2 linked regions of the Homo sapiens genome follow. The protein of the gene in region 2 purifies or fractionates together with the protein of the main gene of each other region. This does not show direct contact. Each region holds a gene or a part of one and is shown on either strand. Other genes may lie near its edges.

Region 1 (7,926 bases), on a different chromosome or scaffold from region 2:
AGTACAAGACCAGCCTGACCAACATGGTGAAACCCTGTCTCTACTAAAAATACAAAAAATTACCCAGGTGTGGTCGTGGGCGCCTGTAATCCCAGCTACTTGGGAGGCTGAGGCAGGTGAATTGCTTGAACCCAGGAGGTGGAGGTTGCAGTGAGCCGAGATTGTGCCATTGCACTCCAGCCTGGGCAACAAGAGCAAAACTCTGTCTCAACAAACAAACAACCCCCAAAATTAGCTGGGTGTGGTGGCACGCACCTGTAATCCCAGCTACTTATGGGCAGCTGAGGCAGGAGAATCTCTTGAACCTGGGAGACGGAGGTTGCAGTAAGCCAAGATTGCGCCACTGCACTCCAGCCTGAGCAACAGAGTTAGACTCTGTCTCAGAAAAAGAAACAAAAAAAAGCCTGGGCACGGTGGCTCAGGCCTGTATTCCCAGCACTTTGGGAGGCCGAGGCAGGTAGGTCACGAGGTCAGGAGTTCAAGACCAGCCTGGCCAACATGGTGAAACCTTGTCTCTACTAAAGATACAAAAAATTATCCAGACTTGATGGAGCACGCCTGTAATCCCAGCTACTCAGGAGGCTGAGGCAGGAGAATTGCTTGAACCCGGGAGGCGGAGGTTGCAGTGAGCTCAGGTCACGGCCACTGCACTCCCGCCTGGGTGACAGGGCGAGACTCCATATATAAATATAAATATAATATATAAAATATAAATATATAAAAATATATAAATATAAATATATATAAATATATAAATATAAATATATAAATATATAAAAATATAAATATATATACACATACATATATATATGTATATATTATATATATGTATGTGTGTATATATATATATATATATATATATATATATATATATATATATATATAGTTACAGGAAATTGCCTACTGAGGTGCCACTAAACTCACCGGGAAGCCACCACCCTCTGAATGTCCCAGCCCCCTTTGTGTGTGGGGAGGAAGGGATGGTTCTATAAGCCATTTGCTGCCATGTGCCACAAAGCAAGAAGGAAAAGAAAGTACACTGGAACCAGGATGAGAAGCCCCTTCATTCTGCTGTGTTCCTCTAGTGCTCTCTACTGACAAAGTTAAACACTGTGCCAGCTGGCAGAGAAGTATTTACAGGATCCTGCTCCAGTATTTCAAAGCATAGAAAAGAAGGTTAGATTTGGAGCTATGAGGTTATAAATTGATGGCAGGCACATACATGTTCTGCTGCAGAAGAAGGTATTTGATTACGGAGTGCTGTCCTGAGACCCCAGAAGGAGTGTTACATTGTACAGTTTATGTAATGCACCATTGTGCCTTTGTACAATCTAAGCAATTCTGGGTTCTGAACTGGACCTCAGGGGAATCACGACCTGTACCACTTTGTTATGATCATGTCTTGCAAACCTCAGTGAAGAGCTATCTGAAACACGGTGGGAAAATATGCCTCAGGGTGTTCTGCCTTTGTCTATGACCAAATCTAATCAACAGCTGCCATCAAGCCTGAAGCAATAAGAGCACCTGAGTTCTTGTTTGAGAAGAGGTGAGAGCAAGGTGATAAAGCCTTGGCTCAGCTTGCCTCTTACGTAGCTTGGATAAGACTTCTTTTATCATATATATAGTGTTTATTTATTTATTTATTGTTGTTGTTTTGAGACAGGGTCTTGTTCTGTCACCCAAGCTGGTCTGGTACCCAAGCTGGTCATTCTGTCACCCAGGCTGGAATACAGTGGTGCAATCATGGCTCACTGCACCCTTGACCTCTCAGGCTCAAGTGATCCTCCCACCTCAGCCTCCTGAGTAGTTGCAGCCACAAGCGTGAGCCATCATACTTGGCTAATTCCTATGTATGAGCTTTTAACCCCACTGAGCTCCTGGAATTTGACCTAATAATATTAGTACTTTTTTCCTTTTAAGGCAGCATACAATTTTCTTTTTTTTTTTTTGTAGATCATGGTGCAGCCACAGAGATGGTAGCCCCTCCCTATGCTCCCAGGTATACGATTTTAATAAAAGGACAGAAACCTTGATTTATCTCCACTACAGTTCCAATGCCAGGGGATGCAAACTCAAATATCTATACAGGTTAGGGATGCAACTTAAATGAGTGAAGCATGCAGATACAAGGCAAAAAGGAGTGATGGCAACTGTGGAAAACCATAGAATATATGCTTAAATAAAGGTAGTTGCTATTTAACCCCTGCATATTGTTGCCATGTAGATCTAATTGTCAGATATTCTAATTTTTCAAGAAAAGCTGGAAATTCAGATTTTGAAAACCTGAACATCAAATTTTAAAAACAGTAAAAAAGACGGTATAGGACAAACATATGTATGTGCCGGGTCGGCGGGGGGAGGGTCACATCCAGCTTGTGACTCCTACCCCATGCCTGTTTTTATGCCCCTGTACAATCCTTTCCCACACTGACTATGGGTGTGGCCATACTACTAGTTTTGGCCAACGGGACATTACCAAGTGTGGTGCATACCAGAGGTTTGATAAGCATTTGTTCACTGGGGCTTGTCCTTTCTCAAGTCACTATGCAGACGTTTGAATGATAAAAAGCCACAGGGAGGAGAGGCCCTAGAAGATGAAAAGTCATTTTGAATGAGTTCCCAGCTGATTGCATGTGGGCCCCGGCTGAGCCCGGGTCAGCCCACACAATTGTAAAATCATAATAAACCATTGTTATTCTAAGCTACTAAGTCTTCGGAGGTTTGTTGTGTTGCAACAGGTAACTGAAATAGAGGTCATATCTAATCCCTTTGTTTTACTAATGAATGTCCTAAGGGCCATAGTGGAACGGACCTGGTGAAATTCAGATAGCATGACAGTGGTAAGAACTTTCCAATTCTGTGCTCTTCCTATTGCTTTTCTTTCAATTCCCTTGGTGAAAAGCACCAGGTAAGGACTATGAAACTTCAAAGTCTACCTGCAGGGAACTTATACTGTGTCCTGAATGCATGCAAATTACTGTAACTTGGTCCTTGGTAATGGAAAGATTTCTAGGTCATCCAGCCTCTTTGACTTTATAGGTGCAGAGAATGCAAAAACACTTTGAGAAAGTGAAAAGCAGCCTCTGATATCTGGAAGCTGGCCTGGTACAATCAGCCATGCCATGATGTTACTAGACCACAGCCTGGCCCTTATAGCTAGGCTTTGTGTTTTCCTGTAGAACAAAAACAATTCCAAAGAACATCAACATCAGACGAGGTCATTCTGTGACCATGATAGATCCAGACAAATACAAGACCACTCTATAATCAGGTCTAAACACGATAAAAAGATAAAACCTGATGATTGTCCAAACCACAAAAAATGACTCAACATCCCCACTTGGCTAATATGAGGGAGCTGCTGCTGCACTTTTTTTTTTTTTTTTCGTTTTTGAGACAAGGTCTGGCTCTATCACTCAGGGTACAGTGGAGTGGTGCGATCTCCATTCACTGAAACCTCCACTTCCTGGGCTCAAGCGATCGTCCCACCTCTGCCTCCCAAGTAACTGAGATGACAGGCGCGCACCACCAGGCCCGGTTCATTTTTGTATTTTTTGTAGAGAAGAGTTTCGCCATGTTGCCCAGGCTGGTCTGGAACTCCTGCGCTCAAGCAATTCGCCTGCCTCGGTTTACCAAAGTGCTGGGATTACAGGCGTGAGCCACTGCGCCCGGCCAGGCTGCTGTTTCTTTATCTGCACAGCTTTAGCCTCAATCTAGAATTCCCTTCCTCTAGATAAGATGAACTGAGATGCTCAATCATGGAACGACCCTCTCTTCCTGACAGTATCTAATCCAGTGAAGCTCTCACTTCCTTAAACCCTCTCCCAAATCACTAACAACTCTTACCGAGAGGCCCTATCGTTCCTCAATGTGTGTTCTCAGTCACTGCAACTAGTAATAAACCCAGCTTGTTCAACGATCCGTGTCTTCCTGGTGGGATTTGGTTAGAGGGCACGGACAGACCTAAGTTACACAGAGTTGGAGGCTGAGTTCACTAGAAGGAGTCTCCGCTTGTGTGTTCCTTCTTAGCCACTCTTTTGGTTAGTGTCTGTCGTCCCTCCACCAGAATTAAGCTCCATGAGAACAGGAGCCTTGTCTGTCATGTTCAGAGCTGATTCTCAGCGCCTAGAACGGTACGCAGCGGAAGCTGGATGCTTAAAAAATAACCATTTTCTGAACGAATGAATGAGGGGCTCGATATACGCACGTCCCCTTTAATCTCGCAGCTCCTCGCAGATCGTGTGACATACAGACAGCACCACAGCACATTTCCCAAAACCCCGTCTTTCCCGAAGAAATCTCGAAACTCTCACTCCTGGGATGCCCATCCTCTCAGAGCCTCTTCCCCAGGCCGAGCTTCTCTCACTCGCTGGCCCCTTCCCACACCTGAGCCCCAGGTCTATACACCTTCCTAACGCACCTAGAACCCACCTGTCTCCACCATCTGCCCCTACCATCAGACACTGCCGGACGGGCCGCGCAGCTACCTAGGCGTCTAGGGAGCACTGCGGCATGGACCGCGCATGTGCGGAAATGGGTCGCATACGCAGGACCTCCGACAAGTGAGGAGTTGCCTCGGAGTTTCCGTCCCGGTCTGGGCAGCCTTGGGCTGCCAGGAAGTCAAGAGAAGCTAGCCGGAAGGACAACCCGGGCGCACGGCTTTCTGGGACACGTAGTCGTGGCGCTCTCGAGGCCCTGCCATGAGCAAGCTCTTAACTCTTCAGGTCTGCACGTCCTACGCCCACCGTCCAGTGCTACTCTCAGCTCGGAGTTCAGCTTCGGGCTGCCAAGAGCCAGCAACCTGGTGTCAGAGGCTCGGTCCCACAACGCTCTGCGGGCCGCGGCGCCTGCTGGGAGGTGTAGTCCCCGATCTGCGTACTGCGTTCGCCGAGGGGGAGGGCGGAGCTGCCGGCGGCCCGGGCGGGCTGGCAGCTAGAGTGGGTGCGATAGCCGCCTCCGCCTCTGCCGCCTCCGCCGTCGCCTCCTCCGCCCGGGCCGTTCGCTGCTGCGCGGGGAGAGCGAGGCGGGGCCGCCGGGGCCGCCATGGAGCCCGACTCGGTGATTGAGGACAAGACCATCGAGCTCATGGTGAGTGCGGCCCGCTGGACCGTCTGTGCTTCCGTCCGTCCGGCCCCGGGCGGGCCTGCCCACCTCAACGTCCGGTGCGAGGCCGGCTCTGGCCCTTCCCAGACGCCTCGACCCAGACCCGGGCCCCCAGCCTTCCCTGGCCTCGGACCTGGCGCGGGCTCCTCTGATCCCTCGACATCTCCGGCCGGTCCTGGCCCGGCCCCCTCCATGCCCCTCGCTTCTCCCCCTCCCCCTGGTCCCGTCTCCGGTCCCAGCTCTCGGACGACCCTCGCTCGTTTATGCTGTAGACTTAGGTCGCACTCGCTCTAGCACCCCATTCTCCTTCTTTTAGAAAGGGATTTTTTTTTCTTTCCTCTGTTTCGGCCCAGGCCCGCACCGCGCTTGCAAGCCCCACTCAGGCCGAGTGAGATGGTGGGAAGGAGTACGGAGATGGGTTGGGGCCGCCTGGGCCTCCGCGTCCTAGGAGAGGTCTCAGCACCCACTCCCCAGCCTAGGTCTGTGTGGATGCCAGGATAGGCCCTACAGAGCTGGGGGGGCAGGGAGCTTTCGGGTTTGAGGCTGTGGCGGATAAGGAGGCCTCTTTCCCGGGCCCTTGTGGTGTCCGGCTTCTCGGACAAAGGGTTTCCTACCCGGCGGAGAGGGATGTTTGCATAGCAAGGGCCCAGGTACTCTGGATTCCATCCTCCAGGAAAGAGAAGGCGCAACTTCACGTTTTCCAGAGCTGCTTTGGGAAATTGGAGATGACTGGGGAGGGAGCCATCCTCATCACTGCCGCGAGGTCTTTCTTCTCAGAAAGAAAAAAAAAAGAGGGGAATCCTTGGCCCCCGGGGGAAGCGACCACTCTTCTGTTAGAAACCACTGGCAGCCAGGCCAGACTCCCGGTCCGTGGACACCCTCCACCCTCCTCCGAAGCTTTAGGATTTGAAACCAGAAGGGGTTTTTAGGAACAGGACAGTGAGAGAGTGGCTAGAAGTGAAGAATTTGCTAATTGATGGATGATTTGGTGGAAGAAATAAAATATGGCAGATATTACCTGCCAACGTGAACATGAGGGAAATCAAATTGGGCTCTGGAGAGCTGGGAAGAGGAAGTCTGCATCAGCAAATGGACATGTCCAGGATTTCTTCCTATGGAAGCCTTGACAGTTTCTTTGTATCTTTCCTAACACGGTAACAACTTCTTCCCCAGGGTTGAGAGGAGAGGTGGAAGAATCTACTTAACCCAGCAAAATGTTTTCCTAGCCAGATTTTCTTCAGTGTGAAAATGTTTATTGAGTCAGTGATTCCACTGGGTAGGGTTGGTGACATCAGAGCCACTTCCCCCATTTAACGCTATAAATAATAAATGGTGACACTGAAAGTCTGTTGGATAGCTGCATGGTTTCTGTGGATGATGGTGTCTGGGGAGTTGAGATGCTTGTTTTAAAAATGGAAGTACAGTAGCATAAATATGGAGGCAGCTTAATGTTTGCTGTCCTTTGCATAATTCACAGAACTGGACTTCTCTAGCATTCTTGAAAACTAGGAGGGAAAAAAAGAAACTGATAGTTTTTGATTTTTGCATGCGTGTGTGTGTGTGTGTGTGTGTGTGCACGTGGGGTTGTTTTCAAAGGGATGTCACATACTGAGTGATTTTTCCTTTTCAGCATAATTTATCATACTTGTAGTCAAGTGTTTGGTATTCTGTAACTTTTGTAGTGGGTTATTTTGGTAACTATCTTAAATCGACTAAGTATATTACATATTCTTAAGAATGTACACACAGTGCATGTACTTACAACAGAAGTACTTCATATCGAAAAATTGTAACTTGGTGCCTCTTTGAAATTGGCTGTTCCCAGCTCCTTCCATTTCTATTCCTTTAAAAAATAACGAAAATGTATTTATTTTCAAAAGAATTATAAGAAATACGTTGTAACCCAAGTCAGTGTATGGTTACAAAATAAAAAAATAAAAACCTTTGGCCTAAATTCACTGGCTTCCTATGCTTATAACTTAAAAAGTTTTGATTTTACATGATAGCACTTGGTTTTGATCAGAAAAGAGATTTCAGCCTGTTAAGGACATTATAAACTGGGATTTAAACTGGAATTCTTTGAAAATTTAACAGAGTTTAGTTATATTACGATTAATTTTAAAATGGCCTTTTATTTAAGGATTTTGATATTTCCTGAAAGGGATATCAGTTAAGACTCTTAGACAACCCTTATCATAAATTAAATATGTGTATTTATTTTAGTAAAGTAGCACAGGTGCTTAACAACTGATTGAGTAAATCCAGGATCAAATGTAGGAAATAATGCCTTAGAATCTAATTGCATGTGGCTTTCTGTTTTCACTGCATTTCAATTACAGTTTCCAGAACTGGGTTAAAAATATTTTTTACATTGGTTTCAAGATAATACGATTGATGGAGGAAAAGGGGTTAAACTGATGGTGTTTTGAAAGCCTAAAGCATGAAATATTTTTAGATTTTTATGAGTCAGCTTCAGTACTCAAATATTTGTGATTGTGCTGCTTGTACCAGTTTGGCACTTAATGCTTAACAAGATAACTTTCATTTGCTGTTCCAAAGTGTGCTGTATTAAAAAGAGGAAACAGACTTCTTGGTTATCTCCATTTTCTAATCTTCATCCCTGTACTTTCCTTAATATTGATTCTTCTGTTTTTCCTTGCATTTTTGATAAGTATATTAGGAAATAAAGCTGGTGATAGCAGAATAGTTAAATTTCTAAAATATAACCCCCACTTTGACTCCTACCGCTGCCTGAGGCCTGGGTCCACCCAGGTTGCTTCTCCTCCTGACCCACTCTATAGGATTCAGCTTTGAATATTAGTA
Region 2 (7,019 bases):
ACGTTTATTTATCCCCTCTGTTTTATGTATATTCTTATTGTCAACGAGTTTCTCATACAAAATGAGGCATTCATTAATAAAATGATTACTAGAGTTTTATAAAAACTGCTGAATCATTACAAACAACTACTAAATGGACAGGTTGTGTTTTTTCCTTTTGTCTTTAAGGAGAGGATCAGTATCTACTTCCTCGATGTTCAGGGCCCTCCTTGGGCCCTGGTGCAGGCAGGTTCTTGGGCGGGGCTATCGGTTGTTTTACGTGTTTTTGGTTTTTAGATGGTTATTATCTTAATTCATTGCATATAAAAAATACACAATACACATTCTCTGTCTTTCTCTCACACCCACCCATGCACACCCACATCTACACAGAAGTGCAAGAGTGCATCCAATTCCCAGCATAATATGGTGAGTCAAAGCCCATTTTTTTCCTCTGTGCTCTGGGTATTACAGCCAAAGTTGAATTTTGGGGGCTTGAGATCACTGAGAATTACCTCCCATTGTTAAAATTACATAAATGCAGGATTGAGTACAAAGTGGCATTCAATACATTGTTGGCTTTCTGATCTTCTACCAGATTGGGCAGCCACATCTCCAGGTCACCATGGCTGTGGCCTCTAGCTGGGCCATCTGCTGTGGCCCTCCCCAGGAGGTGCTTGGCCTCTGAAGTGAATCCTGGAGGCCTCTGGCAAGGCCCTGCTTCTTATACCTGAATTAACGAGGCTCTTTTTAGAAAATGTGTTCTTTTCTTAGGAAGTTATCCCTATGCACCTGGCCACCTCCCCCATCCTGTCAGAAGGAGCTTCGAGAATGGAATGCCAGCTGAAAAGGGGCTCTGTGGACAGGATGAGAGGCCTGGACCCCAGCACGCCAGCCCAAGTGATCGCTCCCAGCGAGACGCCGTCAAGCAGCTCTGTAGTAAAGAAGAGAAGAAAAAGGAGGAGAAAGTCACAGCTGGACAGCCTGAAGAGAGATGACAACATGAACACATCTGAGGATGAGGACATGTTCCCCATCGAGATGAGCTCGGATGAGGCCATGGAGCTGCTGGAGAGCAGCAGGTAATAACTGTCCAGGGTGGAGGGGCTGTGCCAGAATCAGACAGTTAACTGTTCAAGATTATTTTTATGAACTTTTCCCCCATAATTCCTTATTCTTTTATGTGTTTTAGACCAGTGGTCCCCAACCTTTTTGGCACTAGGGACCAGTTTTGTGGAAGACAGTGTTTCCATGGACCAGGGGTGGATGGTTTTAGGAGGACTCAAGCATATTACATTTATTGTGCTCTTTATTTCCATTACTATTACATTGTAATATATAATGAAATACTTATACAACTCGCCATCATGTAGAATCAGTGGGAGCCCTGAGCTTGTTTTCCTGCAACTAGACGGTCCCATCTTGGGGGTGATGGGTGACAGATCATCAGGCATTAGATTCTCACAAGGAGTGCGCAGCCCAGATCCCTCACATGTGCAGTTCACAACAGGGTTCGTGCTCCTGTGAGAATCTGATGCTGCCACTCATCTGGCAGGAGGAGGAGCTTAGGTGGTAATGTGAGGGATGGGGAGCGACTGCAAACACAGATGAAGCTTTGCCAGCTTGCCCGCCGCTCACCTCCTGCCATGTGGCCCAGTTTCTAACAGGGGCATGGACCCCAGGGGTTGGGGACCCCTATTTTAGGCTGAATTTTGGAATCATGTGGACCCAATCCTAGAGTGGTATAAAGATTTGCTGTGCTGTAGCCAAGAGACAGTTGGTGATGCCAAACCTCCTTGGCTGATCGCTTTAGCAGCCTGGAATGGAGTCAAGAAACAGGAACTGAGCAAATTAATAGTTCATGACCAAACCCATTTTCTTGGAACCTATTTATTCTTATTTGAGCACCAACGATGCACAACTGGGCTGATTTATAGGCAAGGGCTGATTTCAGGCTTAAAAGTGAATGAAGAAAATGCTGTTTTCTCTATAAGCCAACTTTTTCCTTTTTAATTTTGACTTAGGTCCAAAGTTTAATGGAAATTTTGTTTCCTTTTTCTTTGCTTTTAACAGTGTGGTGAAATTCTGTTTGTATGTATTACTATTTTGGTGAAAAATGCCAGTTTTAAAAGATAAAATTCATTTTGAAGGATATTTGATGTTTCAGATTTTTACATAATTCGGTATAATTTTTGATAATTTTGTTAACATAAAGAAGGGATAAGGGGAATCAGGAGTATCTTCCTGTGTCATTATTTGGAATAAAATATATCTTTTTTCGTGGTGAAAAATAAATGTCAACTGGCAACGAATATTGCTTTTCCCAACTACAGCCTCTATCTAACCTGTGACAGGCTTAGAACCAGCGTCATTGGGCTTCTTATAATTGCCTTCTCTGCATGGCTGTTAAGTACAAAATTTAGTGGTAGGTGTTCCAGGTAACATCAACATATAGACAGATGGCCTCTGCATGATTGAAATTGTGAATTGTATTTAGTAGTGAGTGTGCTTATACCTGAAACGAGGTCATTTGCAGTTATTCTGTAATCGTAAGGCATGTTTGGTTGATGCCATTTATTTCTTCTGCTAGACAAAATGTGATCAGCGTATGGTCATTGAGTTATTCAGCAGTTCTGCCTGTACCTGGCAGGGGTTTTATACCGCCCTGGGGCCGGTTTGGGGCCACTCTACCTCCCAGGCTTTTGGAACATGACCGTGTAGGGTAGCAGGAGGTGGCACGATGGGAGGATCCAGCAGTGTGATCACTGCATGTGTGTCTGAGTCCAAATGCTGAAACAAAATCATTTTACAATTAGAATTCGGCCAAAGCATTAGCACATAGACACGTTTATGGATGCCGGTATCTCACTTTTTCCCCCTCCACTGCCTGGAACAGATCTGGGTGTTTAAAGAGATCATGTTAATTACAAAGCACTTAGAGCTAATCAAGAAAAAATTGGAACTTGATTATGAATCTATCATTAAGAATTCTTTGACTTTAATCTTTTTTTTTTTCCTCCAGAACTCTTCCTAATGATATACCTCCATTCCAAGATGATATTCCTGAGGAAAACCTCTCCCTGGCTGTGATTTACCCTCAGTCAGCCTCATACCCTAATTCGGATAGAGAGTGGTCACCCACTCCCAGGTAAGCTGTTCCCTGTTCCCCTGGCCCAGTGCAGAGGCTTAGAAGTCAGTGATAGGAAGCAATTCTAAGAAAAGAATGAAATAGAAATGAAAAGTGAAAATAATTAGGACCAGGAAAAACACGGTGTAGAGTCGGAGGTACAGATTAGGATCAAACACAGAACATGTTCAGATCATACACTTATATCTGGTGTCAGAATCCATCTGCAGATATGGCTGTTAGCTCCCTGGAGGTGAACTTGAAAGGAAAAACATGTAAATTACATCATGCTAATTGTTAATAGGAGAAAACACAGTGGCAGAGCCTTTCTTGATACTTAGCCCTAAGTAAAATTCAAAAACAGACGTTGCTTCAGGAGCTGCTGAGGTCGTTCAGGGCTATTAGAATGGTGCCTCCGCCACACTTAATCCATTCTGCCGAATTCAAGAATATTTATTTCCCTGAAATGAACTCACAAGTTGCCCTAGAGGAAAACTTGGAGAACTAGAGCTGCTCACTGTGCAGATGCCATCCTGATGACCCCAGAGATGTTTACATCAGTGAAACCTCTGGGAATAGTGAGCCCCCTGGCTAGTTTTCAAAGGACTTGGGGAAGAGGGTAGAGCTAAATCCTGTGTTCTCAACACAGGAAATAATATAACCCCCATTGGGATGAAAATTCATTCTTGGGTGGTGACAAAATCTTAGACGTTATAATGGTTTGTGGTCTCTAAGGGGCCACAGCATTAAAATCTCATGGTGGGTGGAGTTGGGCTATTAATTTCTCAGAATGCTCAGGGGCATGTTGATAATGAAAAAGAGACTGAGAAACGCTGATCTAAATGCCAGTGACATCCTTGGGTTATTCGTATACCTCATGCTTTAGATTCGCTTCTGGTTCATGGTGCCAGCCCTTAGAAACTCTGGGTTCCTACCTGAAGCCGGTCTTATCAAAACGCCACCCCTGGTTCCAGTTTGATCAGGGTAACCTTGTGAATTAGCAAGCAGCAGTCCCCAGTGTGTGCTGACATGGAGGTTGGAGAGAAAATAGATATGTCCCATGCCTGGTTTCCAGCCAATACTGATGTCGCGGGTTAGTCCAGCAGGCTGAGGCTGAGGCCTGTGACAAAGTCCCTGCATGGAGGTCTTCCTGCGTCAGAGCCTAGCCCTGTTCAATAGAAACGTAATAACTAGCTCCATATGTAATTTTAAGATTTCCAGTAGCCCTATTTTTAAAAAGTAAAAAAAAAAAAAAAAGATGAAATTAATTTTAAAGCTATATTTCATTTGACCACAGTATTTCCAAAATATCATTTCAACAAGCAATCAATTTTAAAGAATTATTAATGAGATACATCACATTTCTGTTTACATACCAAGTCTTTATAAACTCCATTATGTATTTCACATGCGCAGAACATCCCAATTTGGACAAGCCACGTTTCAAGTGCTCAGGAGCCACCTGTAGCTGGTGGTTTATTATATTGGACAGTGCAGATATAAGACCTTTCTAGATTCTCATTCTTTCTCTAGGTCTGTGGAGATAAAATAGTGGAGGGAAAAATAGTGGTTTAGGAGGAAAATAATGTAGAATATTTAGAACCCAATAATAGATGAAAAAATCTGTTCAAGCACTGTATGTTAATTTTAAGGATTTAAAAGAAACACTTTAAACACAACTCTGAGCGTGTTTAATGCTCAAAACATCTGTAATGTTTTGCCTCATGAATGCAGCATAATGACTGAGTCAGGTTATGTAGCTCTGACTATCACCAAATGGAATGACAAATTAGGATAAATAGCTACATTTCCACATTTGGAATTAGGTATTTTCTGTAAAGAGACAATTGACAGCACACACGAGCACATTTTTGGATTATGTAGTTTGATTAAGCACGAAAGTGTGACCAGAGATGATCAGTTCTACACATGGGTGAAACAGAAAGTGAAATAGGTCATTTGGCAGTTTCCTGCTTTTGTGTCTCAGAAAATTCATGCTGATTTCTTAGCAATTTCAATATCCGGTGCTCTGCCATTATCAGATGTCTGAGTTTCTTTATTTTCTTAAAAATGTCGTTGTTGAGAGTAGTCAAATACTTTACGTAATATATATAATCTTTATATAAAGTATATATACTTTGTAATTATATATAATCTTATATATAATCTTTATATAAAGTATATTATATATACTTTATATAATCTTATATATAGTCTTTAAAGTATATTATATATACTTTATATAATCTTATATATAATCTTTATATAAAGTATATTACATATACTTTATATAATCTCACTTGATGTAATTGACCTCTGATTTTGTCTTTCTTTTAATGTGTATCACGTGGTGGTATCCAGTAGCCTGGTAGATTGCAAAAGGACTGCCCCTCATCTTGCAGTTGCGGCCGAGGGAGGTCTGTCTAGTTCTTGCCCTCCACAGTCTTCCCTGTTCCATCCTTCGGAAAGGTAGAGGAGTTATTTTCCCCATTGGGATATATTCAATAATGAAAAATTTGATCTAACTCTTACTATAAGTCTATTTTACCATTAACCAAATTACTTATGAAGAAAATACCTGTAGATTATATGAAGTGAAAATTTTGATTTAACTTTTACAAATCGATTTCACTAACCAAATTACTTATGAAAAATATGTATATAGATTACTCTTTTCCTTTCGTTATAAGCATTTGTAGATGATCAGATTTTTTTTTTTTTTTAATTCCTAAATTTGACTCTCTGGAAATTATGGTTAAGCATATAATTTTACCTAATTCTGTGAAGTGCTTTGAAAATGAGAATAATGAAATATAGCTTGGGAATATGATCTTCTGTTTTCTGTCTCGGGTTGTTTGACAAATAAGTTTACAAGATATTTTTGGAATACCACTTTAATTTATTATAAACATTTAAGTAGTTTATTGGGCTGTCTGAATAATGGAGTCAGACACTTTCCACAGCATTTCTAGAACAGAATCTTGGAGAATGGCCTGGGCTGGGTCTCAGGCTGAGGATCAAAGGTTGGTGTGTTCACTCGATGTAGTCATCTCAGATTTCTGCCTTCATTCCCTCAGTTTTGACCTACCTACTTTGTGGACTTACATGGTTTACTTTGTAAGCCTTAGCAAATGAAGCTACGATTAATTTGTACGTGGAAAACCTTTTGTCTTTTTGATTAAAGATCCAGACCTCAGGATGTACTTCATTCAGAGGCTACATTTGCAGAAGAAAAGTCCGTTTAAAATGAGGAAAACAAAGTTGTTAATAGTTAAAACTAACTAGCCTTATTGGGACTGGCAAAAATACTGAAAACTTTGATAAGGCTAATAAATACCTTGTTTATGAACATCAGTCATTGACCTTGTAAGCTTACTTTTTTGAACAACCCTTGATCTTAAAATAATAATATTTCATGACGGAGCACTTTGGAGTCATCTTTCTGGTAAATCCCACTTGGCAGTGGGCCCCATTCCTGCGTCCTTTTTGGTCTGTCTGAATTCCCTCAGTGACGGTCGGCAGAAAGCGCATCTGTGTTTGTGCACGAGACCTTTGGAGAAGGGTTGCTGTGGCCTGAACGGGCAGCATTTATGGTGGTGGCCTGTTTGCTGTTGGGGAGGGACTTGCAGCAGACTTTCTCGTAGGGCTGGGCTCCTTATGCGTGAGTTGCACGCCTGAGTGCCTCTATGGGTTTTGTGGCTCGTGGCTTTTATGAAGGGACCAGAATGTTAGGAACTCTGGAGTTGGGAATTGCTGCAGGAGAACCGTGTTCCGCATTTCGTTCTTCTAGAGCAGAGGTTGGTAAAGCACGGCCCATGGGTCAAATCTGGTCCACCATCTGCCTCTGTCAGACTTTCCCGGGCATAGGCAGTTGGTTTACATACTGGCTGTGGCTGCTTTCACACCACCACAG

The links. The genes of interacting proteins can lie anywhere in the genome.
Region 1: the proteins of LPIN1 (region 2) and FBXW11 purify together in Homo sapiens (affinity purification with mass spectrometry; 4 studies listed by BioGRID and IntAct, with this or other methods). This does not show direct contact.

Annotation. Positions count from the first base shown.
Region 1 is NC_000005.10:172,003,620-172,011,545, reverse strand, and holds the start of FBXW11 (F-box/WD repeat-containing protein 11), read left to right. Parts: upstream 1-4,907; 5' UTR 4,908-5,043; coding exon 5,044-5,088; intron 5,089-7,926.
Region 2 is NC_000002.12:11,770,619-11,777,637, forward strand, and holds part of LPIN1 (phosphatidate phosphatase LPIN1), read left to right. Parts: intron 1-753; coding exon 754-1,061; intron 1,062-3,001; coding exon 3,002-3,127; intron 3,128-5,467; coding exon 5,468-5,575; intron 5,576-7,019. UniProt on the Homo sapiens protein: Acts as a magnesium-dependent phosphatidate phosphatase enzyme which catalyzes the conversion of phosphatidic acid to diacylglycerol during triglyceride, phosphatidylcholine and phosphatidylethanolamine biosynthesis and therefore controls the metabolism of fatty acids at different levels.